Homo sapiens: one gene and its partners. The protein of the gene in region 1 interacts with the protein of each later gene in a pairwise test. Each region holds a gene or a part of one and is shown in the gene's direction. Other genes may lie near its edges. The genes, in order: UBE2J1, SLC39A2, SLC26A5 and ZDHHC15.

What was found.
Region 2: the proteins of UBE2J1 (region 1) and SLC39A2 interact in binary tests that used the Homo sapiens proteins (3 or more experiments, as listed by UniProt).
Region 3: the proteins of UBE2J1 (region 1) and SLC26A5 interact in binary tests that used the Homo sapiens proteins (3 or more experiments, as listed by UniProt).
Region 4: the proteins of UBE2J1 (region 1) and ZDHHC15 interact in binary tests that used the Homo sapiens proteins (3 or more experiments, as listed by UniProt).

Annotation. Positions count from the first base shown.
Region 1 is NC_000006.12:89,328,418-89,335,749, reverse strand, and holds part of UBE2J1 (ubiquitin-conjugating enzyme E2 J1), read left to right. Parts: intron 1-318; coding exon 319-448; intron 449-2,544; coding exon 2,545-2,664; intron 2,665-5,762; coding exon of another isoform or gene 5,763-5,792; coding exon 5,793-6,071; 3' UTR 6,072-7,332. UniProt on the Homo sapiens protein: Catalyzes the covalent attachment of ubiquitin to other proteins. Functions in the selective degradation of misfolded membrane proteins from the endoplasmic reticulum (ERAD) and is essential for cells to recover from ER stress.
Region 2 is NC_000014.9:20,994,103-21,002,383, forward strand, and holds SLC39A2 (zinc transporter ZIP2), read left to right. Parts: upstream 1-5,190; 5' UTR 5,191-5,344; coding exon 5,345-5,459; intron 5,460-5,639; coding exon 5,640-5,770; intron 5,771-6,013; coding exon 6,014-6,064; intron 6,065-6,844; coding exon 6,845-7,477; 3' UTR 7,478-7,769; downstream 7,770-8,281. Other genes in the region: METTL17 (ribosome assembly protein METTL17, mitochondrial isoform 1 precursor), read left to right, coding at 441-511, 692-799, 1,063-1,131, 1,799-1,849, 2,107-2,190, 2,425-2,781. UniProt on the Homo sapiens protein: Transporter for the divalent cation Zn(2+). Mediates the influx of Zn(2+) into cells from extracellular space. The Zn(2+) uniporter activity is independent of H(+)-driving force, but is modulated by extracellular pH and membrane potential.
Region 3 is NC_000007.14:103,408,143-103,415,474, reverse strand, and holds part of SLC26A5 (prestin), read left to right. Parts: intron 1-2,362; coding exon 2,363-2,473; intron 2,474-3,888; coding exon 3,889-4,055; intron 4,056-4,925; coding exon 4,926-5,090; intron 5,091-7,332. UniProt on the Homo sapiens protein: Voltage-sensitive motor protein that drives outer hair cell (OHC) electromotility (eM) and participates in sound amplification in the hearing organ.
Region 4 is NC_000023.11:75,519,923-75,527,703, reverse strand, and holds the start of ZDHHC15 (palmitoyltransferase ZDHHC15), read left to right. Parts: upstream 1-4,666; 5' UTR 4,667-4,679; coding exon 4,680-4,815; intron 4,816-7,781. UniProt on the Homo sapiens protein: Palmitoyltransferase that catalyzes the addition of palmitate onto various protein substrates.

The DNA of each region.
Region 1 (7,332 bases):
TGTTATATGTGATCTCAAGGACAGTATAATAGACAATTTTCTCATTGTATAGATGTAAAACTTATTTTTCTTTAGATAGTTTATTGGAAAAAATAGCATCTGAGCCCTGGATTTTTTTAAAGCCAGCCTAACATTTACTTGTCTCAGGACTATAATCATTACATTAATTTTCTAATTCATAGCATGTGGATAAATGTGATGTGGAATTTTCCAGTGTTCCTTTCTTTTAAGTTTAATGATCGAGCATTTGAGTGTCTCAGTGAGAGGGAATTAAACATTTAACTATTTATTTTCATTTAAAAAATCTTTTTCTACTAGATCACAAGATTTCTGTTGTGAAGGATGTGGCTCTGCCATGAAGGATGTCCTGTTGCCTTTAAAATCTGGAAGCGATTCAAGCCAAGCTGACCAAGAAGCCAAAGAACTGGCTAGGCAAATAAGCTTTAAGGTACTATAAATTCTTAAATAAATGCTAATCTTGCAACCCTTTTGTTTACTGCTGGATTCTGCATAGAAAGGAAAGCGATGCAGTTCTATTACAATATGACATTTGCCAATGTTTTTCTTTTTTCATATTTTTATATTTTTAATTTCTGTGGTTACATAGTAGGTGTATATATGTATAGGGTACATGAAATGTTTTAATACTGGCATGGAATGTTTTTCTTATTACAAAATTCCTAACTACATTCATGAAAGCTTTATAGAATAGTGAGGGAGTGAAACTTGAACTCTGGTATACAATGCCAGGGTTCAAATCCCAGCTCTGTTGCTTATTAGTAGTATGATGTCAGACATATTAATTAACCACTTTGTGCCTTTTTATTATCTATAAATAATAATGGTACCTAAATCATAGGATTGCTGTGAGGATTGAATTAATATATGTAATACATGTGTTGCATTCAGAACTGTCCCTGGTGCTTAATAAATTCTAGCTATTATTACAGAATATATAGATAAGCAACAAGAAGAAAATGATGGCCGGGCGCGGTGGCTCACGCCTGTAATCCCAGCACTTTGGGAGGCCAAGGCGGGCGGATCACCTGAAGTCAGGAGTTCGAGACCAGCCTCAACATGGAGAAACCCCGTCTCTACTAAAAATACAAAATTAGCCAAGCATGGTGGTACATGCCTGTAATCCCAGCTACTCGGGAGGCTGAGGCAGGAGAATTGCTTGAACCTGGGAGGCAGAGGTTGCGGTGAGCCGAGATCGCGCCATTGCACTCCAGCCTGGGCAACAAGAGCGAAACTCCATCTCAAAAAAAAAAAAAAGAAAAAAGAAAAAGAAAATGACATTCATAATCTCACCGCCAAGAAATAGCTACTGTTAATATTTTGGCATCCCTCCTATATATCCCTTTTTTCTGTATATGTTTTACCCGAACATAGGATTATATAATATTTTAATACTTTGAGTATTAAATATTTAATTATTGAAGGTATTAGCTGGGCGCAGTGGCTCACGCCTGTAATCCCAGCACTTTGGGAGGCCGAGACAGGCAGATCACGAGGTCAGGAGATTGAGACCATCCAGGCTAACACGGTGAAACCCTGTCTCTACTAAAAATACAAAAAATTAGCTCGGCATGGTGGTGTGTGCCTGTAATCCCAGCTACTTGGGAGGCTGAGTCAGGAGAATCGCTTGAACCTGGAAGGTGGAGGTTGCAGTGAGCCAAGATTGTGCCTCTGCACTCCAGCCTGGGTGACAGAGTGAGACTCCATCTCAAAAAAATATAAATAAATAAATACATACATACATACAGACGTAAAGTATTAAGTATTTAATCCTTCTGGAATTTAATTAGCTTCACAAACAGAAATGTCAACCTGCATTAAGCAGCATGCTCTCTTCCTCTTCCCTCTCCACTTCTCTATGGACTGTCTGTCTTTCCAGGTCCAGTTCCCTTCTCTTTTATTGTAGTGCCTGGAGGAGGAGTTGCTCAGAACATGTTTACTTTCTTCCTTCTGAGGATTCCTATTACACTTAAAATTGCTTCTGAAAAATCTCAGGACCAAATGTGTTTTGTACATGAGAATTTTTCAGACTTAAGAAAAGATCTTACATATACCATATATTAACTAACCTGCCGTGCGATCTGGGGCAGCACCTCATAATCAAATCCATTAGGATTTCTTCAGCAAATCTGGGAATATTACATTAATGTGGGATTAATGTTTACACTAATGTGGGATAAAGACTATTCATAGGTTCACATCAGCTCATATCAGGCTTTGCCTAAAAATTACCAAAAAAACCTTGAGTTTTGAGAGCTTTTTAGCATTGTGGATTGTGAACCATGGGTGTTAGTTTTGTCCCTCATCAAGTAACGGCTTCTTGAGAACAGGTGTTGTGTATGCTTCTTCCTATGATACCTAGTACAGTGTTGGACACAAGAGTGCTCAGTGATTAACTGCCTGATAATAGATATTAAACTAGCAATTAAAATAAATCCAACAGAGAGGATTTAGCAGGTTGTAGATTGTGTATGTTTCCTGTTGTTTCCTGTTGTCACACTGCTCTTGGGTCTATCTTGTTTATAGGCAGAAGTCAATTCATCTGGAAAGACTATCTCTGAGTCAGACTTAAACCACTCTTTTTCACTAACTGATTTACAAGATGATATACCTACAACATTCCAGGGTGCTACGGCCAGTACATCGGTATGGCTCTTATCTTTTAATATATATGTATGTCTCTATCATTATCACTGTTTGCAATAGGAGGAGAAGATCCTGGATCAAATATCTGAAAAATTTGGTTCTCTTAACAACTGGATTCTAACTCATCAGTCCCGCTAATGAATTATTATGTTGAGCAAGTTGTTCATGCTTTCTGGCCTCAGTTTTCTTTTTTTGTTAAATGGGGCTGGATTAAATAATTTTTGTCTTGTCCCTCCAGAATTCTGTGATTCTCTGAAAAGTTAATTTTAATATAGTGTTAGACTGAATAAAACAAAATATCCATATGTTAGCCACTTTCTAAATAGACACTATTTTTGGCAGGATTGTTCAGCTGCATTAAGGTACTGACTTAATAAAGTCGTAGAGCCAAAAATTTACTTAGACTTGCTCTGTCCAACACAGTAGCCACCAGCCACATGCAGGTGTCTACATTTAAATTTAATCAAAATCAAGTAGAATTTAAAATTCAGTTCCTCAGTCACACCACATTTCAAGTGCTCCATAGCCACATGTGGCTAATGGGTACCATATTGGACAGTGTAGACATAAACATTACTATCATCACAAAATTCTGTTGGACAATGCTACCTCGTATATACTAAGTGTCCAATAAATAATTGTTGAATAAAAGAATGAATGCTATGAGTGTTGTTAGTGGTGCCCTGACCTGTTGTCTAAGAAATTGTTTGGCCTAGGTGATCAGAGAGAGTGATTTAAAAAATATGACTGGATTGGTGCCAAAAAATAAGGATTATGGGAAAAAAATGATTTTCCTTCCTATATATAAAAGATTAACTGTCTTTGGAAGTCTTTTTGGTAACAGATTGTTTGGTTAAGTAGTCACATTTTTTTTGTTGTTGTTTCTCCAGTTTATTGAAGACTTTAAAGGGTGAGGGAAAATTGAAATAGAAGTTGGGCAAATATAGATTTGCCCTTTACCCAGCAATAACGTACGTAAAGTGGGAGTGAATAGTCTTGAGTGAGTCTCTCCTATTCAGAGAGTGAGCTGGGCAGAGAAAAGTTGGTTGAAGAAGAACAGGGTGGTAGTCTAGGGGGACTGAAGATGGAGGTCCAAGAAAAAAGTGTGTAGCGATGAGTTTAAATCATTTTTGTGTGATCCCAATGTAATTTTATGAATTGCAGGGGAAAACAATGAATTAATTTTAAGGTCAATATGTTTTAGTTCAAGATATTGAAAAAGCTTTCTAATTACTTTTTATTTCATAGTTTTTTTTCTAATAGAAGCATTCTATTACAAAAAGGAAGGTGGTAATCTTTTTTCACCTTTTAGGACAGCCTCCTAATGTTTGTGATGTATTTAAATCTTTTGTGTATTTTCAATCTATGTTAAGTCCCCTTGTTACATATTCCAGTTATACTTATTCCAGTTGTAATTTACTTTGTAATTATTTATTGTCTATCTCTCTTCCCAGAATGTAAGTTCTGTGAGGGTCAGGGGTCTCTTTCCGCTTCTCCACTGTATCCCCAGTGCCTGGCTTAGTGCCTTCTATATAGTAGATTGCCAATGTTTGTTTGTTGATTGAATGAATGAATCTTAGGATTGGTACTTTAAAAAATGCTAAGAATACAATTAAATAAATCAAGAAGTTTAAGTAAATTAGAGTGTACAAATAATGATGTTATTATAGTAGTATTTCTTGTTTTGATTTAGTACATAAAACTTAGAATTCTTATTCATAGATACAGGTCATTAATTGAGACTATTTTTAGTGAAAATACCAACAAGCAATAAATTGTCTAAAATTGCAAGTTAAGTTTTTAATTATATTTACATATAAACTATCTCAGAGTATGATTATATAATTTGACCACTATGAAAGTAACTGAAACCTGGTTTGGCTAAGGGTGGTTATTTTACATTAAGTATAATATAAATTAATTGAGATGTTATACATCAAATCCCAGATAAGCTATGATTTTTTTGTTGTTGTTAGCCTGAAGGAGAGGCAAGAGATTGCCACAACTCTAAATACCTCAGATAACATCAGGCCATCTGTTGCTTTTTAATGCAGATATTTTAGCATCAAAAAGCAATGGGAAATGTAGAAATGGGAAAAACACTGAAGGCAGTTTTGTTCTTGCAGTCTGTCAGATTTTCTCCTTTTCCCAGGGTAGGGATCGAGGTTCTGAATAAGCCATTTCATTTTATAATAAAAAGCAAAACTCCCTCACACATGCTGGTTATTCTAGAAAAATTTATATATATATCACTAGGGACTTAACTAAGAATGTGATTTTTTATCTTTTTAAGGGAGAGTCTCACTCTGTTGCTCAGGTTGGAGTGCAGGCATGTGATCATAGCTCACCGAAGCCTCAACCTCCTGAGCTCAAGTGATCCTCTTGCCTTAACCTCCCAAGTAGCTAGGACCACAGGTGGGCATGACCACACCTGGCTAAGTTTTAAAATTTTTCTGTAGAGATAGTGTCTCACTATGTTGGCCAGACTGGTCTCAGATGCCTGGGCTCAAGCAGTCCTCCTGCCTCAACCTCCCAAAGTGCTGTATGATTGTTTTAAATAGGAAAAAATTTAGAATTTTATAATATCAAGGCACTTAATTTTTAGTTAGTGATATACCATCCAAAAGGCATCTGAGGCTGGGCACGTTGGTTCATGCCTATAATCCCAGCACTTTGGGAGGCCAAGGCAGGAGGATCGCTTGATCCCAGGAGTTCAAGACCAGCCTGGGCAATGTAACAAGATCCCATCTCTAAAAAAATAATGATTAAAAAAATAGAGACAAAAGGCATCTGAAACATAGGAACCTAATTAAAACATTATATGTATATACATATTTTCATTAAGCGTATGTGTTAAAATATCATCTAGACCAATGTTTTAAGGGATTGTTTTTCTAAATATATTAATAAAACTATTAAAAGGCCAAAAAGCTGTCCTAACTTATGACTTTTTTTTGAACCTAAATTTAGATGCCCCTCAAGGGATGTATTATTAGTAACAATCATTCTTGGTAGTGTTGCCCTTAGTCATATGTTGTCCTCTGAGATTGTGTATTCTTGAATAGATAACAAGTGTATTTACAAATCTTCTTTGCCAGTTTCAAACAAAGTTTCTTAAAATTTCCTAGTACGGACTCCAGAATTCCTCAGCAGCATCCTTTCATCAACCTACCCAACCTGTAGCTAAGAATACCTCCATGAGCCCTCGACAGCGCCGGGCCCAGCAGCAGAGTCAGAGAAGGTTGTCTACTTCACCAGATGTAATCCAGGGCCACCAGCCAAGAGACAACCACACTGATCATGGTGGGTCAGCTGTACTGATTGTCATCCTGACTTTGGCATTGGCAGCTCTTATATTCCGACGAATATATCTGGCAAACGAATACATATTTGACTTTGAGTTATAATATGGTTTTGTGACTTATGAGCTGTGACTCAACTGCTTCATTAAACATTCTGCATTGGGTATAATCTAAGAATTGTTTACAAAAAGATTATTTTGTATTTACCCTTCATTCCTTTTTTTGATCCTTGTAAGTTTAGTATAAATATATCTAGACATTCAGACTGTGTCTAGCAGTTACGTCCTGCTTAAAGGGACTAGAAGTCAAAGTTCCTTGTCTCACTATTTGATCTGCTTTGCAGGGAAATAACTTGTTTTTTCTCATGTTTCATCTTCTTTTTATGTAAATTTGTAATACTTTCCTATATTGCCCTTTGAAATTTTTGGATAAAAGATGATGTTTTAAGTTCCAATGAGTATTACTAGTTACTCAATACCACTTATTGAGTACTCTGTTTCTACGTATGTAGAATGTATAGGGATAGAAGAGTTGAAAAGGGAAAGCAAAACTCCTCAAGTAGCTTCCTTAAAATGTCATTCATAGGAGATGTACTGGAATTGCTCATTCTGTGACTTTATTTGTGTCCTAAACATTCTTCAGTGAAAATAATTTTATTTCAGTCAAACATTTATGAGGAAATGAGATCACATCTTTGTCACTGGATGCTACTTGAAGAGGGAGTACTTTGTAACCACTTTGATATGCTGTTATCACCACCCCCTGCCCTCTGCTGCCATAATCACACAAATTTAAAAAGAAAGAAAACAGTCTTCCATAGATTTTTAAGGAAGAAAGGGCCCAAGCCAGGAGATCGCTTGGTTTTCTTCCAGAAGTTAAATGGGGGGATCTGAAGATTTGAATGTTTGGTCTGCTTTGAAATGTATGTCTTTTGGGATGTATTATATGCCTAGCTTTATAATCAGTATAAATTTTAATTATTCCAGGAATATGCATAATATTGAAATATTTCATGTCCTATTTTAATAGAAAACCTCAGGGCCCAAGTAACAGTGATAGAAGTTAGAAAAACCTTTACTTAGAATTGTCCACCTAGTCAGAGCCCAAGAAAGAATTTTCAGTGGAAAAATCAATATATAACTTAGTGCTAGCTAGCGCCACAGACTCTAGTAGATAATATTATCATCATAATGGCTGGTGAAACCATATAATCACAGAAAAACATTGCCTTCAGCATGTTCAGTTCGCAGCACTGAGGGCACTCTTGAGGGTGTTGTTAATGAAGATTTAATTTTTAAATACAGGTGGTTCCAAGCTTTCAAATAGGTTATGCTCCAAAAGTGTTATTTGTAAGTTAATTTTTTTA
Region 2 (8,281 bases), on another chromosome or scaffold:
AAGCAAAGGGGTACTAGTAAAAGTGTTTTACTGGGAAGTAGAGAAGAGGGTAAAAATTAAGATGAATCTGGTTTACTTTTAAAGTTATAGTCAAGCAAAGGGTGGTATTAGAGGTTTCTGCTGGACTGAGGATGGGTTGGGTAAGAATCAAAGGACAGGAGGCCTAATATTCTCCCTGCCCTTTTTTTTTTTTTTTTAATTAGAGGTAGGGTCTCCATATGTTACCCAGGCTGGTCTCAAACTCCTGGCCTCAAGCCATCCTCCCACTTCAGCCTCTAGGGTAGCTGGGATTACAGGCACGCACCGCCATACCTGGCTCATCCCTGCCCTTTTTGATATACACTTTACCTATTCTTGGGGCCATGTTTCTTATCTGGATATCTCTTCAGTTTATACCTAACTTCCTACACACTCACAGTTGCCTCTTCTTTTCTCCACAGGTGGTTCAGAATCTGGGGAGCCTTATATTCCAGGTGTCTTTTTCAGACAGTTTCTACCTGTATCACCCAAGGCAAGTGGCAGTGTTTAGAATATTCTAAATGTGGAATGTGGCAGATGGAAAACTATGGCTTGAGCTTTGCAGCCCAGCACTGAGTGTTAGAAGATAAAAGAAATTTAGCGGCTAGGACTTTGTTGTATTCTTGGGATGTAGAGATGTTGAGTCTGTCATGTTCCTTGTCTTGGTCCTCAGGTGCAGTTTGATGTAGTAGTGTCAGCTTTTTCCTTAAGTGAACTGCCCAGCAAGGCTGACCGCACTGAGGTAGTTCAAACCTTATGGCGTAAGACAGGTCATTTCCTGGTGAGTTAAAATTCCTTGTTCTCCTTAAGTCTTGAAGCAGCTTCATGGATTTCATGCCTTTGCTCCTCTCATTGTCTTTATTCTTCACCATTTTTCTCCTTCATGGGTTTCTTTATCCCTCTTTGAGGGTCTCCATCCTGATTATGTAATGCCTATTTCTTTTTAGGACTCCTTCTCCCTCTATGATTGCTCTTACACAGCTACTGACATTTATACTTTCGTGTAATTCAAGTCTTCTGCATATTTTCCCCTTTTGTGAACAGGTACTGGTGGAGAATGGAACAAAAGCTGGGCACAGCCTTCTCATGGATGCCAGGGATCTGGTCCTTAAGGTAAGGCTTCTTCTTCCCTCACTCCCCCACCCATATGGCACCAATTACTGTTACTCTCTTGAAAACGAAAGAGACTGTCATGTATTGACAAGGGTGGCTCTCAGGAAACTGGGCGTATGAAGTCATTATGATACAGAGCAGTGGTTGGCAAATGAGAGCCTGTGGATCAAATCCGACCTGCCACCTGTTTTTATATAAGCCATGCTTATTTGTGCCTCTGTTGTCTGTGACTGCTTTCACACTACAAACAGCAGAGTTGAGTAGTTGGGACAGAGATAGATTTTGCCTACTCTCTGGCCCTTTAAAAGAAACTTTGCGGACTCCTAATCTAGGGCATTGCTGAGCTAAGAACCTTGTCACTGGGGGAGAGTATGAGCCAGTGTATAATCATAAATTTAATTGTCCTGGAGTGGGATTTTTTTGAGAGTGGAGGTTGCTGACAAGGGAGAGCACCGTACTATGTGCCAAGTTCTTGCCTTTCTCCTGCAGCAAAGAGAAAGTTCTTTGTTTGGAGTATTAAAGATGCAGCCAGCTTAATTCAAAGGACATAGTCAATCGTTATTAGAATTGAGTGTTAAAGGAGTCCTCAGTTTACTGAGTGCAGAGATTGAATTATGAAAATAGACCCTTGGCCCAGCTTTATTTCTTTTATTTCCTTTGATTTCAGGGAAAAGAGAAGTCACCTTTGGACCCTCGACCTGGTTTTGTCTTTGCCCCGGTGAGTATTACTTCTGCCTGTCCCACCACACGGATCTGAACTTAGGCGTGGCCGGGAAATGTAAGATGGTAAAGCTAAGCCACTCTCCACTACTTTGTGTTCCTATCCAGTTCCTACCTAATGATTCCCCTGGCTCTTCCTACCCACTGCTCCTGTCCTCCCTTCTCCCTGGCCCCTTTTGACTCTATTATTCTCAGTTTTTAAGTTTTGTGATTGATGGCTCTTTTGTCTTACCTCATTTTTTTATGTGTTCACAGTGTCCCCATGAACTCCCTTGTCCCCAGTTGACCAACCTGGCCTGTAGCTTCTCACAGGCGTACCATCCCATCCCCTTCAGCTGGGTAGGTACCTGGGGATATTGCAGCAGGAAGCAAACATCCTGGAAAAACAGGAAGAAAAAGAATCAGAGTTAGGAGGAGTTGGATAATTTGTAGAATAGCCTGGAGACTTTAGGGCCTACATGTATATGATTTATACATTGTAAAAAAGGACTGCAGGAATGGGGAAGAAGGGACTGTACAAACTTTTTTCCCATATCTTTTTCTTCTAAACAGTCTCTATGTTCCTTATCTTAGAACAAGAAACCAAAGGAAGAAAAGTTCTCTATGGTGATCCTTGCTCGGGGGTCTCCAGAGGAGGCTCATCGCTGGCCCCGTATCACTCAGCCTGTCCTTAAACGGCCTCGCCATGTGCATTGTCACTTGTGCTGTCCAGATGGGCACATGCAGCATGCTGTGCTCACAGCCCGCCGGCACGGCAGGTATGGGGGGTGTGACCAAAATCAGTGGGATGTGGCAGGAAGCTGCAGCCCACGCCAGCATCTGTTTCCACAGGGATTTGTATCGTTGTGCCCGTGTCAGCTCCTGGGGAGATCTTTTACCTGTGCTTACTCCGTCTGCGTTTCCTCCATCTACGGCTCAGGATCCCTCTGAGAGTTGATGAGGATGTGTAACAAGTATTTTCTTCTATCGTGCCTGCCAGGGCTGAAGCTGCCTGGTATCCAGGAGGGGAATGCTGGTATCCCCATATGTCTGTGTTTGTTTGAGATTTTTAATAATAAATAATAAATTTTTGAAGAATGGAAGTGGATTTTGTGATTCTTAAAAAGTGTAGAAGCTGGGCACGGTGGCATGTGTCTGCATTTCCAGCCACTCAGGAAGCTGAGGCAAGAGGATCACTTGAGCCCAGGTGTTAAGGCTACAGTGAACTTTGATTGTAACACTGCACTTCAGCATAGGTAACAGAGCAAGACGTCCTCCCTTAAAAAAAAAAAAAAAAAAAAAACATGTAAAAGGTATAGTTAATTATCCTGGCCTATCCTGTAATGAAGAGCTTCCTCAGATTTTTGGTGCCAGGCTTCCCACACAAATCTCAAGCTCGCCCTCTCCTATTGTGGCAGTTCAGAGCTCCATAAGCTCTTCGCTGTAATGATGAATGTGTAAGCTGATCATTAAAGCAGAAGTAGAAAAACCAGATTTCCATAAGCCCTTTGCTATAATGATGAATGTACAAGTTAAACATTAAAGCAGAAGCAAGAAAAATGGATAAGGAATCGGGGGAAACTGGTGCCTGAGTACGAAAGCCAGAATACAAAAAAAGCAAGCCCTTTAAAGCCCCACCTATACTTTCTCTACCTCAGATCTAGCTGAGTGATAAAAGCATTCCTGCACATACAACCCATCCCAGGACCAACTTAAGATTAAGAAACTTCTGTCTGCAAGTACTCACTCACTATGGTGGGATCAGCTGCAAAGCGAACTGTCCCATGCTCATGTTGATGGTTTTCTAGATACTGCCAACATGTTAGCTCTTTCTGGTGCCGATGAATTTCAAACGCGAACAGACACCCTTGATGTGGGTTTGCTAAGAAAATAGAAGAACAGGAAGAAAAGTTGCCAGGTTCAGACATCCCAGGGAAAAAGAAGCGTAAACAGCATTAGCAATCAGTGACTGATGATAATGCTGCAATAATGGGAATGGTTTTATTTCTAAATCAAATCGTTTATTGCTTTGTTTCTAAAAAACAAAAAAAAAACTTCTACCTGCAGACCCCTAGTTTAGATTAATTAGGAAACATTCCCGCAGGTAGTCATAGAGCTTGAATTGTATATAAAAGCTAAAGAAAAGCTTGTAACTTTGAGTTGGTCTGGTGTGCTACTCCGACCTCCCTGTAATCAGTTGCAGAAATAAACTCCCGTCTTTCCCAGTCTGTCTGTCTGCATCTCATTACCGGACCACAAGAACAAGCAGCAGGACCAGTAACACTGTAAGAATCATCCAGTAACACTGTAAGAATACTGCTTCTACCAGAGGCCAGGACTTCCCTAGGAAAATAATCTGGAGTAGCAAGGAAAGCTGCCTCCAGAGCTCTGAGAACTGGCTCAACAGGTCTCAGGGTTGTTATGTGGGCCACCTGAATAGGGGAATCAGCAGCTGCCTGGCCTCTTGTACTAACGCCTTCCCTTCTGTCTTTCCCAGGGTCCCTCAGCTACCCTAGAGTATGTATGGGAAATGCCCCAGACATTTCCATCAAGAGTGATTCCCATCAGAACTGAATCTTCTACCCCCACCTCTCTATATCCAGGTAGAATCCTCCCATTCACTCAGTTCATTTCTGTTTTCCCCTAAGCCTTGCTGTTTCAGGGCTAGAGCAGCTTCCTTTGTCTTAAACCTTAAATGTCTTTTTTTCCACAGTTCTTACCAGGAAACAGGCACAGTTAGAAGTTGTAACAGTATAAATGTTGTAATACCAGACATCTCAACTCATTCCTCTCAAAACTGATCCCAATCAAAAGAGAAAGAAAAAAAACAAATCAACTTACCACTAGACATTTCCATGCCTGGAGCTATTTTTCTGGGGTTACAGGAAAGGGTAGTTCCCTCATGTGGGTACTAGTTCCCACAGAGTAGCACCAGCACCACCTCTCAGCCCCACCTCTTTACCTCCAGGTGGCCCCAAATCTCTGAAAGCGGGTGGTTCAAGTATCAGCATTGCAACCTATAAGACTTGGGATGAGGTGGAGAGGGTATGGAAGGCTTAGATCAAACGTCCTGAGTGAGACAGGACCAGATTGTCCCCAGTACAAAATAGCTGGGAAGCAGCTACCATAGACTTTCCTATTTTGGATTAGACCAACCCCAAGCACATGAACTAAGACTATCCGTAGCTCTTGGATTAGTCATGCCATTGAAGAGGAGGAGAAGACGCCACTGGGCTGTGCCTGGCAGGGAGTCTGGAGTTTCTGGTTTCCAAGCTCAGGAAGGCGTGAACCAGGGGAGGGGCCTCCATGCAGGGGGAGGGCTAGAAGCTGGGGCAGGATCTGTCAGCTCTGCAATGCTGCAGAAGCAGAAGCAACACAGAAAGAAGATACCAACAGCCTCCTGAAACTCACGAGAGTGGACACTCCAGTGTTGACCACCTAAGATACCACTCCTGCTCCAAAGATTACAGCTCCCTTGTCATTCTGACTCCTGGGCTTACCCTACACCCCAGAGATGGAGCAACTACTAGGAATAAAACTTGGCTGCCTGTTTGCCCTGTTGGCTCTCACTCTGGGCTGTGGCCTTACTCCCATCTGCTTCAAATGGTTCCAGATTGATGCAGCCAGAGGTATAGCCCTACCCCATCTTTGTTCCATAGCCTGAGTCTCACCTCAACCCTGTCCTGATACCTTGCTCTGATTCTCTCACCATCCCCAACCTTGGGATATTGAGTGCTGCCTGCTGCTCTTTACTCACCTTTGTCTGTCTCCTCAGTGTCAAGTGGGTTGTAACTTCTGCTTTTTATTAGGTCATCACCGGCTAGTCCTCAGACTCCTGGGCTGTATTTCTGCTGGTGTTTTCCTGGGAGCAGGGTTCATGCATATGACTGCTGAAGCCCTGGAGGAAATTGAATCACAGATTCAGAAGTTCATGGTGCAGGTGAGAGCAGAGATTTCAAGCCGCAGGTCTATGAGGCCAAAATGATAAACAGGACAAAGGGAAGAGAGCGGGAAAGTGATGGAGCCAAGGACATGGGTGGAACGACAAGGAAAATGACAGCTCTTGTGTGGGATGGTGAAAGCAAGTCAGATTAGGCTTTAAGGAAAACAGAATTGCTGAAGGGACAGCACAGGAAGCTGTGCTGCTCCATCCCACATCTAATTTCTGCTGCTTTCTTCTTAGAACAGATCAGCAAGTGAGAGAAATTCTTCTGGTGATGCTGATTCAGCTCATGTAAGTACCTCCCACCATCCCCTATCTGGAGAGTGAGGAGAACCAGAGAGGCCTTTCATATCCAGACCCTTTTGAGAGGAATACATGAGGAGTACCAAGAATCCCTTCTGCTCCCTAGCTCAGACATCGTAGAGGAAAAGAGGAGCAAATCCAATCCTTTTGAGTTTATAGAATGCCAGGGAAAGCCCTTGTTTTACTCTTTCATTCTTTCCCTGGATCCTCTGATATACCTCACATCATTTGCCCATGTTTTTAACTCTATTGAGATTCTGTCCCTTAGCCCCTCTGGCAGTCTTTTGTTGTTGTTGTTTTTCGTTTGTTTGTTGAGATGAAATCTCTCTGTCGCCCAGACTGGAGTACAGTGGCACAATCTCGGCTCACTGCAACCTCTGCCTTCCGAGTTCTAGTGATTTTCCTGCCTCAGCCTCCTGAGTAGCTGGGATTACAGGCACGTGCCACCACACCTGGCTAGTTTTTGTATTTTTAGTAGAGACGGGGTTTCATCATGTTGGCCAGGCTGGTCTCAATCTCCTGACCTCAAGTGATCTGCCCACTTCAGTCTCCCAAAGTGCTAGGATTACAGGCATGAGCCACTGTGTCCGGCCCACTCTGGCATTCTTGTTGTTGCATGGCCATGTCTACTCTTGGCTTCATTTCCCCTACCCTTTTTTGTGTTCTGTTACCACATTTTCTCATTCTCTTCAATCTCCCAATTCCATGTCCATCCAATGTATTGCCTACCCTTCCTTTCCATCTCACAGCCCTTCTTTTTGTTTCTAGATGGAGTATCCCTATGGAGAGCTCATCATCTCCCTGGGCTTCTTTTTTGTCTTCTTTTTGGAGTCGCTGGCATTGCAGTGCTGTCCTGGGGCTGCTGGAGGATCGACAGTGCAGGACGAAGAATGGGGTGGGGCTCATATCTTCGAACTCCACAGCCATGGACATTTACCCTCACCCTCAAAGGGTCCCCTCCGAGCCCTTGTCCTCTTGCTGTCACTCTCCTTTCACTCAGTGTTTGAAGGGCTAGCTGTGGGGCTGCAGCCGACAGTAGCAGCTACCGTGCAGCTCTGCCTTGCTGTCCTGGCTCATAAGGGGCTTGTGGTGTTTGGTGTAGGAATGCGGCTAGTGCATTTAGGTACCAGCTCACGATGGGCAGTGTTCTCCATACTATTATTAGCTCTCATGTCCCCCCTGGGCCTAGCCGTAGGGCTGGCTGTGACTGGAGGGGACTCTGAAGGAGGGCGGGGCTTAGCCCAGGCTGTGTTAGAGGGTGTGGCAGCTGGTACCTTCCTGTATGTCACCTTCCTAGAAATTCTTCCACGGGAGCTAGCTAGTCCTGAGGCCCCTCTAGCTAAGTGGAGCTGTGTAGCCGCTGGTTTTGCCTTCATGGCCTTTATTGCCTTGTGGGCCTGAGAGATTCCTGGCTTTTCTGATGGACCTATTTAGGACAACCTCTCTATCCCCAGGGAGACCTCCCAAATGGCTTTGACCCTCAGACATTTCTTTACTCAGACTAAATAGCATTCAGTAGGACTGGACTGGACCCCAGGTTTCCTTTACATGAGATCCCATTTCTCACCCTGGACTAAGACAAAGATATTTAGGTTGAGCAGCTATTAATTGGAGAATTGGTACAGAGACGCTCCAGATTTTATTCTTATCCCATTTATGCTACTGTGTGTAATAAAATGCCCATTTTACCCTCCTTCAGCCATTCTGGATTTCATTTCTCCTGGTTGCCTAGATGCTACCTGGCACAGGAAGTGGTGGAATGGGGAATGGGAAGGATGAGTGTTGAATGCAGTATTTTATTCTGGAATTAGGGCTCCTAGCCATCCTGTCAGTTGCAGCCACACCCCTAGACATGGCACCTTGCTAAAATTCCCCTCCCACCTTACCCACTGTAGTTGAGAAAATGAGCCAGTTCCCAGCATTTAAAAGGAAAGAAAGTTAAAAGCCAAAATGACGTGGATCGATTATGTTCCTACACTTACCATAACCACCCCATTCCCAGTACCCATTATCAGCCACCGATAACATGTCCAGGCTAAATGGAGATCAGGCAGAATGGAACCTATCTCCATTAGGTTCCTGTTTTTTCACACCGAGCCCTGTGTGGCCTCAGGGACACTATTGCTCTTCTTTGAGCTTCTATCTCCTTCCAGCTGCCTTGTGTTGAGGGATTAAAAAGCAGTGTGCTTGGAGAGGGAGAAAGGT
Region 3 (7,332 bases), on another chromosome or scaffold:
AAAAATGTCTCCAGACATCCCCAAATGTCTCCTGCCAGAAGTGGGGGTGGGGGAGCGCTCTCCTTTGAGAATGATGATTTAGGAAAATGGAGGTAAATAGAGAAAAACAGCTAAACGAGTTGGAAGTGATTGGCTCCGAGGAGCAAAACCTGGAGGAAGAGGGGTGAGCAGAAAAGAGCTGGCTCTTCCAGAGAGCCTTTGCTGCTTGGCTTTTTAAATCGTATGCATACATTTCTTTGCTAGAAATAAATTTTTTTAACAACATTCGAGTGACCATGTTATTATACATGAAGTTAGGATGCTTTCCCAACTCTTCTTTTGCTAAAGCTGTTTTCTCCACAGCATAACAGTGCATTAAATGAGTTTTCTAATTGTCCCAGAAATTTGGCTGAGCCCCCAAAGCTGAGAATAAAAAGGGCTTATTGCCTACACATTCTGAAGAGGGATGCCAGTCAATCTATCCCAAGCTATGAATGAATGACCCAGGCCCTCTTGAGTGTGTCACTTTAACAGAATATATGAGGGAACGAGGAGACTGATTTGGAATGAGAATTTTCCAGGGAGAGGTTAAAACCCTATCCATTTCCCCTCCACCTGTAGTCAAGTAAGAAAGGACTACAAGAAAGCTGCTCAGCGTGCTGAACAGTACCCCCTGGAGTTTGTGAAGACTGCTGCCTAATTCTTGCATGAAAAAGTCCAGCTGCTCTAAAAACTAGTTTTTAAAAAACTTTCAAGTGAACCTGCACATGGATGTTTATAGCAGCTTTATTCATAATTGCCAAACCTTGGAAGCAATCAAGATGGCCTTCAGTAGATGAATGGATAAACTGTGGTACATCCAAACAATGAAATATTCAATATTAAAAAGGAATGAGCTATCAAGCCATGAAAAGACATGAAGGAACCTTAAATGCTTATTACTTAGTGAAAGAAGTCAGCCTGGTGTAGCTTAATACTGTATGATCCCAACTGAATGACATTCTAAAAAAGGCCAAACTGGCCAGGCACAGTGACTTATGCCTGTAATCCCAGCACTTTGGGAGGCTGAGGTGGGCAGATCGCCTGAGCCTAGGAGTTCAAGACCAGCCTGGGAAACATGGGGAAACTCTGTCTCTACAAAAATTAGCCAGGTGTGATGGTACACACCTGTAGTCCCAACTACTAGGGAGGCTGAGGTGGGAGGATTGCTTGAGCCCGGGAGGTTGTGGCTGCATTGAGCCATGAACATGCCCCTGTACTCCAGCCTGGGTGACAGAGCAAGACCCTGTCTTAAAAAAAAAAAAAGGGGGGGGCAAAACTTCAAAGACAGTAAAAATATCATTAGTGTCCAGGGGATGGGGGGAGGGAAGTATGAATAGAGCACAGAGAATTTCTGAGCAGTGAAACTACTTTATATCACACTATCATGATGGCTACCTGTCATTGTACATTTGCATAGACTGTACCACACCAAGAGTAAACCTCATGTAAACTATGGACTTTGGGTGATAGTGATAGGTCAATGTAGGTTCATCACTTGTAACAGATGTGCCACTCTGGTGGGGGATGTTGATAGTGGGGGATGTTGATAGTGGGGGAGGCTGTGCATACATAAGGGCAGGGAATGTATGGAAAACCTCTGTATCTTTTGCTCAATTTGCTGTGAACCTAAACTGCTCTAAAAATTCTATTTAAAAAAAAATGTCTAAAGGATGATGTGAACTGCCTAGGACCGCAGAGTGAGGGAAAGAGTCCCCTAGAGGGTGTGACCTGCACTTCCAAAGTTTCTTGGGAGTAAAATGTCAAGCTTTCCCATTGAGTAACTGGAAGGTAATGAGACTTGGCCCATTTGATAGGTACCTGCCTAAGAAGACTGCCTACAGGATGAGCATACACCAGCCAAAAGAACGTGGAAGGCTGTACCTTCTGATAAGAGTCGGAGGAGGGATATCTAAGAGTCAGGAGGAGGGAGCATTACATAGGTTAGGGCATAGTAACTGAGAGTCCCTTATTGCAAAGGGGTCTCCAGAGAACCCACAAAAACACCCCATTGGAGAACGAGCTCGCATTTGTGAGTCAACACCAAATTACAATGACAACCACTAAGATAAGACTTTTTTCTGCTTTTATCTAATTTGTGAAAGAATAAAGCAGAAAAAAAAATCACCCACTGGCAAAAAGGAGATGACAATGCAAAGTTTCTCAGCTTGGACTCTATCAGCACCAAGGTAAGATGATGTGCAGGACTGGGGTAGGGCAGGTTGCAGCTTAAATTAAGATGGGCTTCACTCGTTCATCAGAAATAAAGAACCAAGAGAAAAACACATGTAACACCTCTGTCTTCTAATGATCCCCCATTTCTGTTTGGTTTTTAATCCCACAGGCTTAGCCTTTGCAATGCTGGCAGCTGTGCCTCCAATATTTGGCCTGTACTCTTCATTTTACCCTGTTATCATGTATTGTTTTCTTGGAACCTCCAGACACATATCCATAGGTAAAAGCTTACATTTGATATTCTATTACCTTTCCTTGTGTATTTCCAACCTTGCAATGTGCCAAAGAAATAGCATGGTCATTATTAAAAATTGTCTTAATAACAACTTTTGTTACTGCATACACAATAGGTGCTTTAAAAACCTACACTCGGCCAGGTGCGGTGGCTCATCCCTGTAATCCCAGCACTCTGGGAGGCCGAGGCGGGCAGATCGTCTGAGGTCAGTAGTTCGAGACCAGCCAGACCAACATAGTGAAACCCCATCTCTTTGTAAAAATACAAAAATTTGCCAGGCTTGGTGAGGGGTGACTGTAATCCCAGCTACTCAGGAGGCTGAGGCAGGAGAATCGCTTCAACCTGGGAGGCAGAGATTGCAGTGAGCTGAGATCACACCACTGCACTCCAACCTGGGCAACAGAACGAGACTCTGTCTCAAAAAAAAAAAAAACAAAAAAAAAACTACACTCCTCCCAAGATTTCTAGAACTTACAATTTTCTTATAATCTTGGGATAATAAAAAAGACAATTTTCTTGTGTAAAAGGGCAATTGTTGAAATCTGTGAAATGAGATAAATGCTTGATTTCATAATGTAATTTGCCAGCTTCTGGTTTTTATTTTTATACTAATGGTAGTACTTCAAGTTCCTAATCGCTATGCATGTATTTCATTTTTGTCATATTTTGGGCTCTGAATTGTACATATTTTCAGTTTATCAGGGGCATATGGATTTCATAATAGTTCTGGTGCTGCATAAGGCTACTACCTAACACACACATACTTTCCAGATATCTACTGTTTGGTAACAAATACCCCCAAAATGTAGCAGCTTTACAACAACAATCATGTTTGTATCTTCCATAGTGCCTGCAGTTCAGGACTTGGGAAGGGCTGGTCTGGGTAATTCTTCCTCTCTCCCTTTTTCCTCCCTCCCTTCCCTCTTCCCTGCCTTCCTTTCTCCATGCAGTCCCAGGAATTCTCCACTTGGCCTAGTTGGAGCTTTCTTACACATGGTGACTTAGGGCTTCAGCAGAAGGTGGAAACTGCAGCCCTTTTATTACCTAGCCTGAGAAGTCACACAACGTCACTTCTGCTGCATTCTTTTGATTACTAACAAGTCAAAGCCAAGCCAGATTCAAGGAGAGAGAAATTAGACTCCACCTCTTGATGGGGAAATGTCAAGAAGACTCTGTGGATGGAAGATATTGCTATGTCTATTTTTGGAAAATACAGTCTGCATGCGCACACACGCACACACACGGTTGCTCATACACCAGGGGCAGGACACTAAAGAAGGGAGCGTAGCCTTCCTTCAAGCATGATTTCTTGACCTCACCTTTGTCTCTTGGTGTACTGGCAAAAACCATATCAGATACTCTGAACCCTGAACAGGGATCTTCATGCTTCATTATTTCAGGTCCTTTTGCTGTTATTAGCCTGATGATTGGTGGTGTAGCTGTTCGATTAGTACCAGATGATATAGTCATTCCAGGAGGAGTAAATGCAACCAATGGCACAGAGGCCAGAGATGCCTTGAGAGTGAAAGTCGCCATGTCTGTGACCTTACTTTCAGGAATCATTCAGGTAAGGCTCAAAGATGGGGAAATGGACTGTCTCGTTTGTTAACCTAACAAGTATCTACTGAGTGCTCTTGGCTGGTCTTACTACACGGTGGATGGGGTCAGCCAGAAAAACCCCAGAGCTCTGGGAGTAACTGCAGACCAACTGCATGCCATATTCACAACTATGAGTGACGAGCAAGCAAGCTTCAGGTGGGTGTTTTAAAGATCCCAAAAGCAAGACAAGTTTGACACGGCAGGATTGGTTAGTGCTGGGAGAGGACATTCCTCTCTGCTTGGAAGAAACAGCCAGTGATCATGATCATGCACTTTAGTCTACATGATGAAGCATGCCCCCAGCTCAATGAGAGACAGGGAAGGCATTAGTGTGGTCAGCGCACTGTGGGGCACCAAGCCACTCCAGACCTTCCATTGTTTTCTGTATAACCAGTGGTTGATTTTCTAGCTACTTACCCACTTGAGGTACAAGTTTGCAGTGTTAGAAAATGGTCCAGAGGCTGGGCGCGGTGGCTCACACCTTTAATCCCAGCACTTTGGGAGGCTGAGGCAGGCGAATCACAAGGTCAGGAGTTCGAGACCACCCTGGGCAACATAGTGAAACCCCGTGTCTACTAAAAATACAAAAATTAGCCGGACATGGTGGCACACACCTTTAGTCCCAGCTACTCAGGAGGCTGAGGCAGGAGAATCGCTTGAACCCGGGAGGCAGAGGTTGCAGTGAGCTGAGACTGTGCCACTGCCTGGGTGACAGAGCAAGACTCCATCTCAAAAAAAAAAGAAAATGGTCAAGAAAGAACTTGTATATTTGCTGTGGGTCATAACTTCCTGACCTATCATGTGATTCATTTGTTTCTTTGTCATTAAAAAAAAATAGTTTTGCCTAGGTGTCTGTAGGTTTGGATTTGTGGCCATATATCTCACAGAGCCTCTGGTCCGTGGGTTTACCACCGCAGCAGCTGTGCATGTCTTCACCTCCATGTTAAAATATCTGTTTGGAGTTAAAACAAAGCGGTACAGTGGAATCTTTTCCGTGGTGTATGTAAGTAAGAAACTACCTGACGTTCTGGTACTTTTCTCTTTATTCCCCCCAACCTTCTCTTCTGTATCTCTTTTTACTTTCAAGACTCATTTTTCTTTTTCTCCAGTAATTTCCATAAAAAGGGAAAAATTCATTTATTCTAAGGTTTTCTGAAAAGAGTGTTACAAAGAGAACTAAACCTTAAAATCTCTGTTATTAATATGTGATACTGCCTACTTCACAAGGAATTTTTTGCTAGGTCTTTATTTGGTGACTGCACCATCACTCTAGGTAAAGAGAGAGCTTTTTCTTACAACTAAATCATGATCTTTTTGGAAACTAACAAATAATTTAAAGGCATGAAGGTAGAACATTTCTCTCTCAAAAACTGCTAATTAAGGCCGGGCGTGGTGGCTTATGCCTGTAATCCCAGCACTTTGAAAGGGCTAGATGGGCGGATCACGAGGTCAGGAGATCGAGACTATCCTGGCTAACAAGTGAAACCCCGTCTCTACTAAAAATAGAAAAAAATTAGCCAGGTGTGGTGGCGGGCACCTGTGATCCCAGCTACTCAGGAGGCTGAGACAGGAGAATGGCGTGAACCCGGGAGGTGGAGCTTGTAGTGACCCGAGATCCCATCACTGCACTCCAGCCTGAGCGACAGAGCAAGACTCTGTCTCAAAAAAAAAACAAAACCTGCTAGTTCAAACTGGCAAAAAATAAGTAAGGCTATAAAAGATTTAACTAACATGAATCTTTTAATTATATAGACCCCTTACCAAACACAGAGAAAATATAAATTATTTGCAAGCACTTAAGGAACAATGGTAATAACTGATCATGTTGAAATCGATCATGTGAAACTGATCACAAATTCTAAAAATTCAATGTTTTTTCACACAGTGCAATATAATAAAAAAATCAAAAACTAAACATAGCTTTAAAACTCCCATATATTTAGAAACCAAAAAACATTTCTAAATGACCCATGAATAAAGAGGGAATTAGGAAATAATTAGAATTAATTGACAGTAGAAGTACTACATATCAAAACCTCTGAGATGCTGTTAAAGCTATCCTTGAAAAGAGAGGCCTGTTGCCTTTGTAGGTATTTATGTGCCAGACACTGCTAGGTGCCAAGATGCAGCTGTGAGCTAAGAAGATACAGGCCTTGCCCTCTGGAGCTTTCAGTACAGTGGGAAGATTGTAAACCATTAATCGCATACATGTGTAGTCAATTACAATTTGTGTTGAGTGCTATGAAGAAGAAGTACCAGCTGCTCTGAAAGTTAAATAGGGAGACCTTTAGATTAGGGGTCTAGGAAAGGCACTTTGACATTTAAGTTGAGTCCCTGACTGATAAAAATGGAATCAGGCTTTAGGAATATTCTCTAAATAACAAAATTCTTAGTTTCCCATAATAGCTATTATCATACTTCTTACTCTGAGACTTGTCGAAATGCCTTGTCACAAAGGAAATAAAACATACTGAGTACTCTAGGCATCGATAGGAAAGGGTGCATGTTGTGGGCTGAGTGGGAAGTCTACTTTATTGGGTTTCAAATGAGAACTGACTATATTTGAGGTGCCCAGTTGGTAACCCTAGGATATAATTAAGTGGATTTGTTCTCTAGTTCTCCTAGGTTCCTTTCCCAAACATCAGCACTCTTGACTTCAAAGTCCTGCTAACAATAATTTCTCTCTCTTTGAGCTCCTAAAAGCTTTTCAATGTATTTACCTTTGGAGTACTTTGCTATCAACCCTTAATTCTTTCCAATTGCTCAGGACTCAGCTTCAGGGTTCCTTTTCTGGATTTTATAATATTACATTGAGACATCAGCATATGATAAGAATAATTGTTTGATAAGAATAACTATAAGGCTGGGCACAGTGGCTCACACCTGTAATCCCAGAACTTTGGGAGGCCGAGGCAGGCAGATGACTTGAGGTCAGGAGTTCGAGACCAGCCTGACCAACATGGTGAAACTCCGTGTCTACTAAAAATACAAAAATTAGCTGGGTGTGGCGGCAGGCACCTGTAATCCCAGCTACTCAGGAGGCTGAGGCAGGAGAATTGCTTGAACCTGGGAGGCAGAGGTTGCAGTGAGCCAAGATCATGCCACTGCACTGCAGCCTGGGCAACAGAGCAAGACTGTGTCTCAAAAATAAATAAATAAATAAATAACAACTATAAAAAGAAAAGAGTAACAACTATAAAGTTGTAGACTGGGTAAAAATGCCTCCTAATTGGTAGAAGCTACAA
Region 4 (7,781 bases), on another chromosome or scaffold:
AAAGAAGAACTACATAAATGGAAAGGTGTTCCATGTTCATGGATAGGAAGACCCAATATTATCACGATGTCAGTTCTTCCCAATCCATAGATTCAATGCAATCCCAATCAAAATCCCAGCAAATTACTTTGTGGATATCAACAAACTCGTTCTAAAGTTTTTATGGAGAGGCAAAATAACCAGAACACCACAATATTGAAAAAGAACAATGTTAGAGGACTGACACTAGCCAATTTCAAGACTTACTATAAAGCAACAATAATCAAGACACTGTGATATTGATGAAATAATAGACAAACAGATCAGTGGAAAAAATAGAGAACCTGGAAATAGAAATAGACCTACATAAATAAAATCTCCTGATCTTTGACAAAGGGGTAAATGCAATACCATGGAGAAAAGACCTTGTTTGTTTTGTTTTGTTTTGTTTTGTTTTATTTTGTTTTTAAAGACGGAGTCTTGCTCTGTCTCCCAGGCTGGAATGCAGTGATGCAATCTTGGCTCACTGCAACCTCCACCTCCTGGGTTCAAGCAATTTTCCTGCCTCAGCCTCTTGAGTAGCTGGCATTACAGGCGCATGTCATCACACCTGGCTAGTTTTTGTATTTTTAGTAGAGACAGGGTTTCACCATGTTGGCCAAGCTCGTCTCGAACTCCTGACCTCAGGTGATCCACTGGCCTCGGCCTCCCGAAGTGCTAGGAAGGATCATCATTTTTACAAATGGTTCTGGAACAAATGGATATCCACATGCAAAAAATATAAATCTAGACACAGACCTTACACCCTTCATAAAAATTAACTCAAAATGGATTACACACCTAAATATAAAACACAAAACTGTATAACTCCCAGAATGTAACATATGTGAAAATCCAGATAACCTTGGGTTTGGTGATGGCTTTTTAGATGGAACACCAAAGACACAATCCATGAAAGAAAGAATTAATAAGCTGGACTTCATTAAAATAAAAAAGTTGCTCTGCTAAAGACACTATCAAGAGAATAAAAAGGCCACATGCTGAAAGAAAATATTTGCAAAAGACACATGATAAAGAGCTGTAATCTAAAATACACAAAAATTATTTAAAATTAAACAATAAGAAAGCAAGCATCTCAAAAAAAGGGCTAAAGACCTGAACAGACACCTCACCAAAGAAGATATATAGATGGCAAATAAACATACAAAAAGATGCTCCACACTATATGTCATCAGAGATGTGCAAATTAAAACAATGAAATACCACTACAGACTTTTCCAATGGCCAAAATCCAGAACACTGGCCTCACCAAATTCTAGCAAGGATGTAGAGCAACAGGAACTCTCAGTCATTTCTGCTGGAAACACAAAATAGTACAGCTACTTTTGAAAACACTTTGGCAGTTTCTTACAAAACTAAATATACTCTTACCACATGATCCAACAATCTCAGTCCTTGGTATTTACCCAAATAAGGTGAAAACCTACGTCCACACAAAAACTTGCACATGGATGTTTATAGCAGCTTTATTCATAACAACCAAAATTTGGAAGCAACCAAGATGTCTTTCAGTGAGTGAGTGTATAAATAAACTGTGGTACATCCAGAAAATGGAATATTATTCAACACTAATAAGAAATGAGTTATCAAGCCATGAAACGACATGGAGGAATCTTAAATGCATATTACTAAGTGAAAGAAGCCAATCTGCAAAGGTTACATACTGTATCATTCCAACTATATGACATTCTGGAAGAGGCAAACTATGGAAACAGTAAAAAAAAACAAAAAAAATCAATAGTTTCCAAGAGTTGTGGAGAGGGAGAGATGAACAGGTAGAACACAGAGGAGTTTTAGGGCAGCAAAAATATTCTATATGAGATTGTAATGGTGGATACAAGTCATTATATATTCATCCAAACCTACAGACTGTACAACACCAATAGTGAATGCTAATAGAAACTATGGACTTTGGATGATAAATATATGTTGATGCTGATTCACAGATTCTAACAAATGTACTACTCTGGTGGGGGATGTTGATAATGGAGGTGGCTATGCATGTGGTGGTAGGGGTTATATGGGAAATCTTTGAACCTTCCTTTCAATTTTGCTGTTAATCTAACATTGCTCTAATAAATAAAGTCTTTAAAAATAAATTTAAATAAATGTAGGCTTTGCATGCTATATGACCTATGTCACAACTACTCCAACTCAGCATTGTACAAAACAGCCATAGACTACAAATTGACATGAATGTGTTCCAATAAAACTTCATTCATAAAAAGTCAGTGGGCCATATTTGGCCCATAGGCATAGTTTGCCAATCCTTGATGTATACACTTGAACATGGTTTGTCTCTCTGGTTCTTGGCCCTCCATGCTCCTTTGGGTGTGAGCTATCCCTGTCATAAGCCCCCCGGCCCCAGACTATTTGATTAGTGATCGGGCTACCTTAGAAGAGGAAGACTTAGGCAAAATTAATCATGTCAAAACGTGAAAGTTATCAACTTCCCCCACGAACTCTGCTCTTCTCACAATAGCCCCTATCATAGTGATTGGCAACATTGTTCATTCAGGCATTGAAGTTAGAAATCTGGCTGTTAGCTTTAACTTATCTCACTCCTCACCTGCCAACTGGTTGACAAATTCTGTTGATTTCCCCAAACACTATTACATCTTTCCCCTCCTCTCCTTCCCTTCATAGCCTGGCTTAGGCCTAGGCTCTTACCATCTCTTGGTTAGAGTACTGTTAATATCTTCCAGCAAAAGCGGGCTACTTGCAGTCCCCCAAGTATGTTGTGCTGTTTCGCATACATTTGCCACTACATATTTCCTTTTGCCTGGAATCCCCTCCTCCCTTAAATCCTGCTCCCATCTCTTATCTTCCTGGTGAAATCCTAGTCATTATTCAAAACCCAACTGGGACTTTCCCTTTCACACTTAATCATTGCCTCCTCAAGGCTACTTGGTTTAAATAGTATACCCTTGACAATCCCAATATACATGTTCCACAAGCCCCGAATTATGAATATTGGAAAATTTAAGTATACATGTCAGAAACTTAGGGCTCAAATAATTAACTAGGCTACTAAATATTGTAACTAAAATGAACTCTGCATTTCATTGCATCATGAATTTAGTAACATCAACCATAAAATTAGCTTAATCTGAAAAGAAACAATAAATCTTTTATCACTTCAGGTAATTTACTGCATATATAACCATAAATAAAGAACAGAGATCAACCTCGTAGAGACACTTGCTCCCACACAGTAGTCACACAGAATGTGAATCACACATGCATCTCAGCAAAATCACAAATTTCTCCATGTAAAAGACCTTTGGGAAAAACAGTGAGTGTCAAATCCATAAATGCCAAGAGCCTGCTGTACTTCTATTATTGTACTTGTGTCAATGAACAACTACAGCCCCAATGAGAACATGAGCTTCTTGGGGTCAGGCCCACTATTTTGTCATTCTTTTTGTACCAAAGTTGATCTAACAGGAAGCAACCACTCCAAAAACATTTGTTGAATTAAATTACCTCCTAATTGATCTTCCTACTTCAAGGCCATCTTCCTTTCCAAAATCCTGCCAGTTATTTCACAAAAACATATCCCTGATGTCACTCCATTTCCCCCAAACCTTTGATGGCTCTTCATAATCTGCTTTACATGATTATGTCCCCATGCCATGCTAGGACATATAAGAGCCTTCACACCATGGCCTCATACTCCCAGTCTCATTCTTAGCCTCTCTTCTTCACAAACACTCTTCAAGCCACACTAGCTGCTCCTGGAACATTTTTGGACTTTCATTACTCTATGACTTTGTAAATGCTGTTTCCTCTGTCTAAAAGGTCCTCCTCCTCTCATCTGCCTGGAAAACCTGAATTTATTAATATAGCTCAGCTTAAATATCGCTACCTTTGTAGCTTTCCCTGACCCCTCTCAGAATCAGTCTCCCTCATTTGTTTTTTTATACCAATGTGTTTGTTCTAAAAACATACTAAGCTGATTCTGCGGGGAGGGAAAAGGGAAGGAGGGAGTGCCCTGTCAAAGGACTTACCCAAGCAGCGACTGCGGCACTACGTGTTAAGCATATTGTTCAAGCAGCAGTGGGAGGATGGAGCTGGATGGCCTTCATGTTACGAGATGCTATGGCTCGCATCTTTCACACTGCGTGTGTGTGTGTGTGTGTGTGTGTGTGTGTGTGTGTGTGTGTGTAACTGTGGGGGGGGGTAGCAGGGGGAGAGAAAGAGAACGAAGGGAGACAGAGAGACTGAGACAGAAACAAAGAGGGCGGACGCAGTGCAGTAAGAGCAGATGGGCGGACCCAAATTTCTTCGGCTTCACGATTTTGCGGAGGTCTAGCCCTGCATCCAGCCTTGAAACAGGGTGGGGAGGAGGCAGAAAGGGGAGGGACTGCACTCCCTCTGAGCGTGCTAGCTCCGACTGCCTGACGGATCACCCTTCCGCTCCAACATGGCTAGTTCCTCAACGCCGTGACTCAAGCCTGTTGTGCCAGGCAGGGCGCACTCAGCAGCGCAGCCCCACAGGTGGCGAAGGCTCCGCGAGAGGGTTCCCGCCAGGCTAGACAGTGGAGTGCCGCACAGCGCGCCTTCCAGCCTCGCAGCCGCCACCCTAGCGGTTCCGACCCGGCGCCAGCAGGCCTGCTTGGTCGATCTTCGAGCCAAAGATGCGGCGAGGCTGGAAGATGGCTCTGTCTGGGGGGCTGCGGTGCTGCCGCCGGGTACTGTCCTGGGTGCCAGTGCTCGTTATTGTCCTCGTCGTGCTCTGGTCCTACTATGCCTACGTCTTTGAACTCTGCCTGGGTAAGTGGGGCTGGGCACCTAAGGTGGGGAAATTATACTCCAATATAATCGTTTGCCCTACCTTCACACTGGTGTCCCTTGTGTTCTCAAGCCTTCTCTCTGCGGTTTTCCTTTCTCTCCCTGGAGAGTTCCTTGTCCCCAGCCTCTGGCTTCCCACAATATTTCCTGCGCCCTCCCACCAGGGTCCCGCCGTGTCTCCATCGTCTCCCACCTAGGGTTTCTTATTTCTTTGCCCTACCCACAATAATGTCCTGGCTCTTCCCACGAGGGCTCCCTTTTCTCATACAGGGCAACCATCTGCACCTTGTGCTCTCCTTCTGGGAGCCCCTACTGTACCAAGTTGAGGAAACAACATACCCTGTGTCTTTAAACTGTTTGCTCACACTAGGAATCTCACCAATGCATCCAACTAGGAGCCCCACCATTTTCCCTCCTACTAGAATCCTACTAGGATTTCCTACTAGGGATTTCCTACTGAGAGTTCCAAAATATTTCCTCTACTCTCTTACTAGCTCTCCTTTTTCACACACTGGAATCTATCGTTTTCCCGTGATCCTCTCACACTGGCTGAAGTGCTTCATATCTTTGTCCACTTGTGATCCCACAGTGCACCCTATTCTACTCCATTAAGATCTTCCGTTTTCACACAGTGGTAAGCCCTCCATTCTCTTTCCCTGTGGGCTCCCCCCATTTAATCATTTTCTTTAATGGGATTGGTATTCTATAATACATCCTCTCTCACATGAGAGGCCCTGATTATATTATACTGGAGTTCCCTCCAGTCTCCTGCCTTCTTGCTTTGAGGAGCATTCGACTCCTTCCCATTAGGAGCCCCACATTATTTTCTGACACCTTATACTGGTGACCCTGCTATTGTCACATGATGATAGTGCCTTCTCCCACTAGAGTCACCTCTTTTACCCTCCCACAAGGGTTTCCGTAATTTATCTCCTATTCCATCAAAGGGCCGCTACTTTTCTAATCATTATTCCTCGTTATCTTTTTTAGGAAACCCACTCCCCACCTCCCACAGTGTTCTTTCACTTTTAGCCCCACATTCTGCCATCCACTTCCTTTGGGATTTCTTATTATTATTTCTTCTTACTTCTCATTGGATTGCACTTGTCCCATCTTCTCAAACTGGGGAAACCCCATTCTTTCTTACTGGGGTTTCTAATATTTTCTACTCCTCCCAATGGGCATATCATTTCTCATTCCCTCTCATTAGACTACCCCTTTTATAATTCTATGATCTTTTTTTACCCTGTCCTGTCACACTAAGGAGCACTCTATATCCTCCTTATTTGCAAAATGGTTCTCACAGTATAGCTTGTGCATTCAAACTCAGAATTCTACAATATTTCCCGACACAAACCCCAAGTCTCTCCCTTATATTATTCCCACTTTCCACTTTAATTCCCCCCGTTCCCCATTCTTATTATTATTGGCCTTGCAATGCTCTCATCAACTCACAATGGCGTTTTCATATTATATCCTGTCTTGTTACAATAGGGTCCCTGCTTTTCTCACAGTAAAATCTCCCCTTGTCCCTGTCTTCTCACATTGAAGAATCCCTGTCTCCTCTCAAAAGAGATTCCACTAATACTTGTCAGTCTTGTCACTTCGACACTGTAATTCCATCGCCAGCACCCTTAAACTTGTGGCCTACAATGTTCCCTATTCATCTAGTTTGGGGCTCCAATATGTTTATACTCCTCTCACAGTAGGACTCCTGACCCATTGGACATCCCCTCACTCCCAAGTCCTTCTGAGACTTCTTTATTTTTTCATACCAAACTCTTCTCACCTTAAAAATGATGGTAAGGATGCTGCTTTTTTGAACTCCGGGACCTGACTCCATTTGTAATTTTCTTCTGTTACATATTTGCAAAGCAATAGTCTACCCCAGGTAGACTGGGATAAACTAGGGAGGCAGGAGATGATCCTCTTTTCCAATATAGAACTTTCTATATTCTAATTCTATAATTTCCTATATTCTAATTCTAATTACCTCTCTGAATCACAATTGGAATTTTTTTTACCTCTTCCTTAGAGATATTATGGAAAATGCAGAAAGAGCTCTTAAAATAAATGTCATTAGTTGCCTTCATAGATACAAGTTAGCCTAGTTTTCTTTTGTATCTCAATCCAGTATTGGGATGCATTAAGTAGACTATGCAATGACTGGGAAGCTTTTCTATTCTCAGACCTTACTACTTTGGCTTTTTGAATGATTGATTGAAGGGTCAAAAGTTCAGCACCATTATTATGGTATGGACATTGCTCCTAGGATCAATGCCATATTGTAAACAACTTATTTTGGAGTTTTTCAGTATTGACTCATATGAGCTTCACCAAGATATATTTTAAAAATTAATGATGATAATGACTAACACTTATGTATTGCTTACTCTGTGCCAGAAAATGTTCTAAGTTCTGTAGATAGATTAACTATATATTAATTCATTTAATCATCACAATAACTATATGAGGCAGGTACCATTACTGTTTCCATTGTACAAATGTGTAAACTGAGGCACAGATGAGCAAACCAAGGTAAAGACCAAGTTACTGCAAATAATTGGCCTTCTATAAGTTCTTCTTTAGTCATGTAATATTAACAGATGAAAGGAAGCGTAGGACTTATTTGTTTGTTTTAGTTAACATACTTGCACCACACTGCTACATGCCAAGTACTATTTCTAGGTGACTACACACACAGACACTTAATCTTTATAACAACTTTCCAATGTATATACTATCATTACTTGTTTGTAAACTGAGGAACAGACAGAATAAGTAGCTTACCTAAGGTCACAGAGCTAGTAAATGGCCAAACTTAAAACCCAGGCAGTATGTTGCCACAGTCTCCTCTAAACTAATGCAGAGGTAAAAACTTTGTGACATACAAGCCAGATGTAGCCTTCAGATATATTTTGCCTGGCCTGCACAGTGTTTTCTTAACA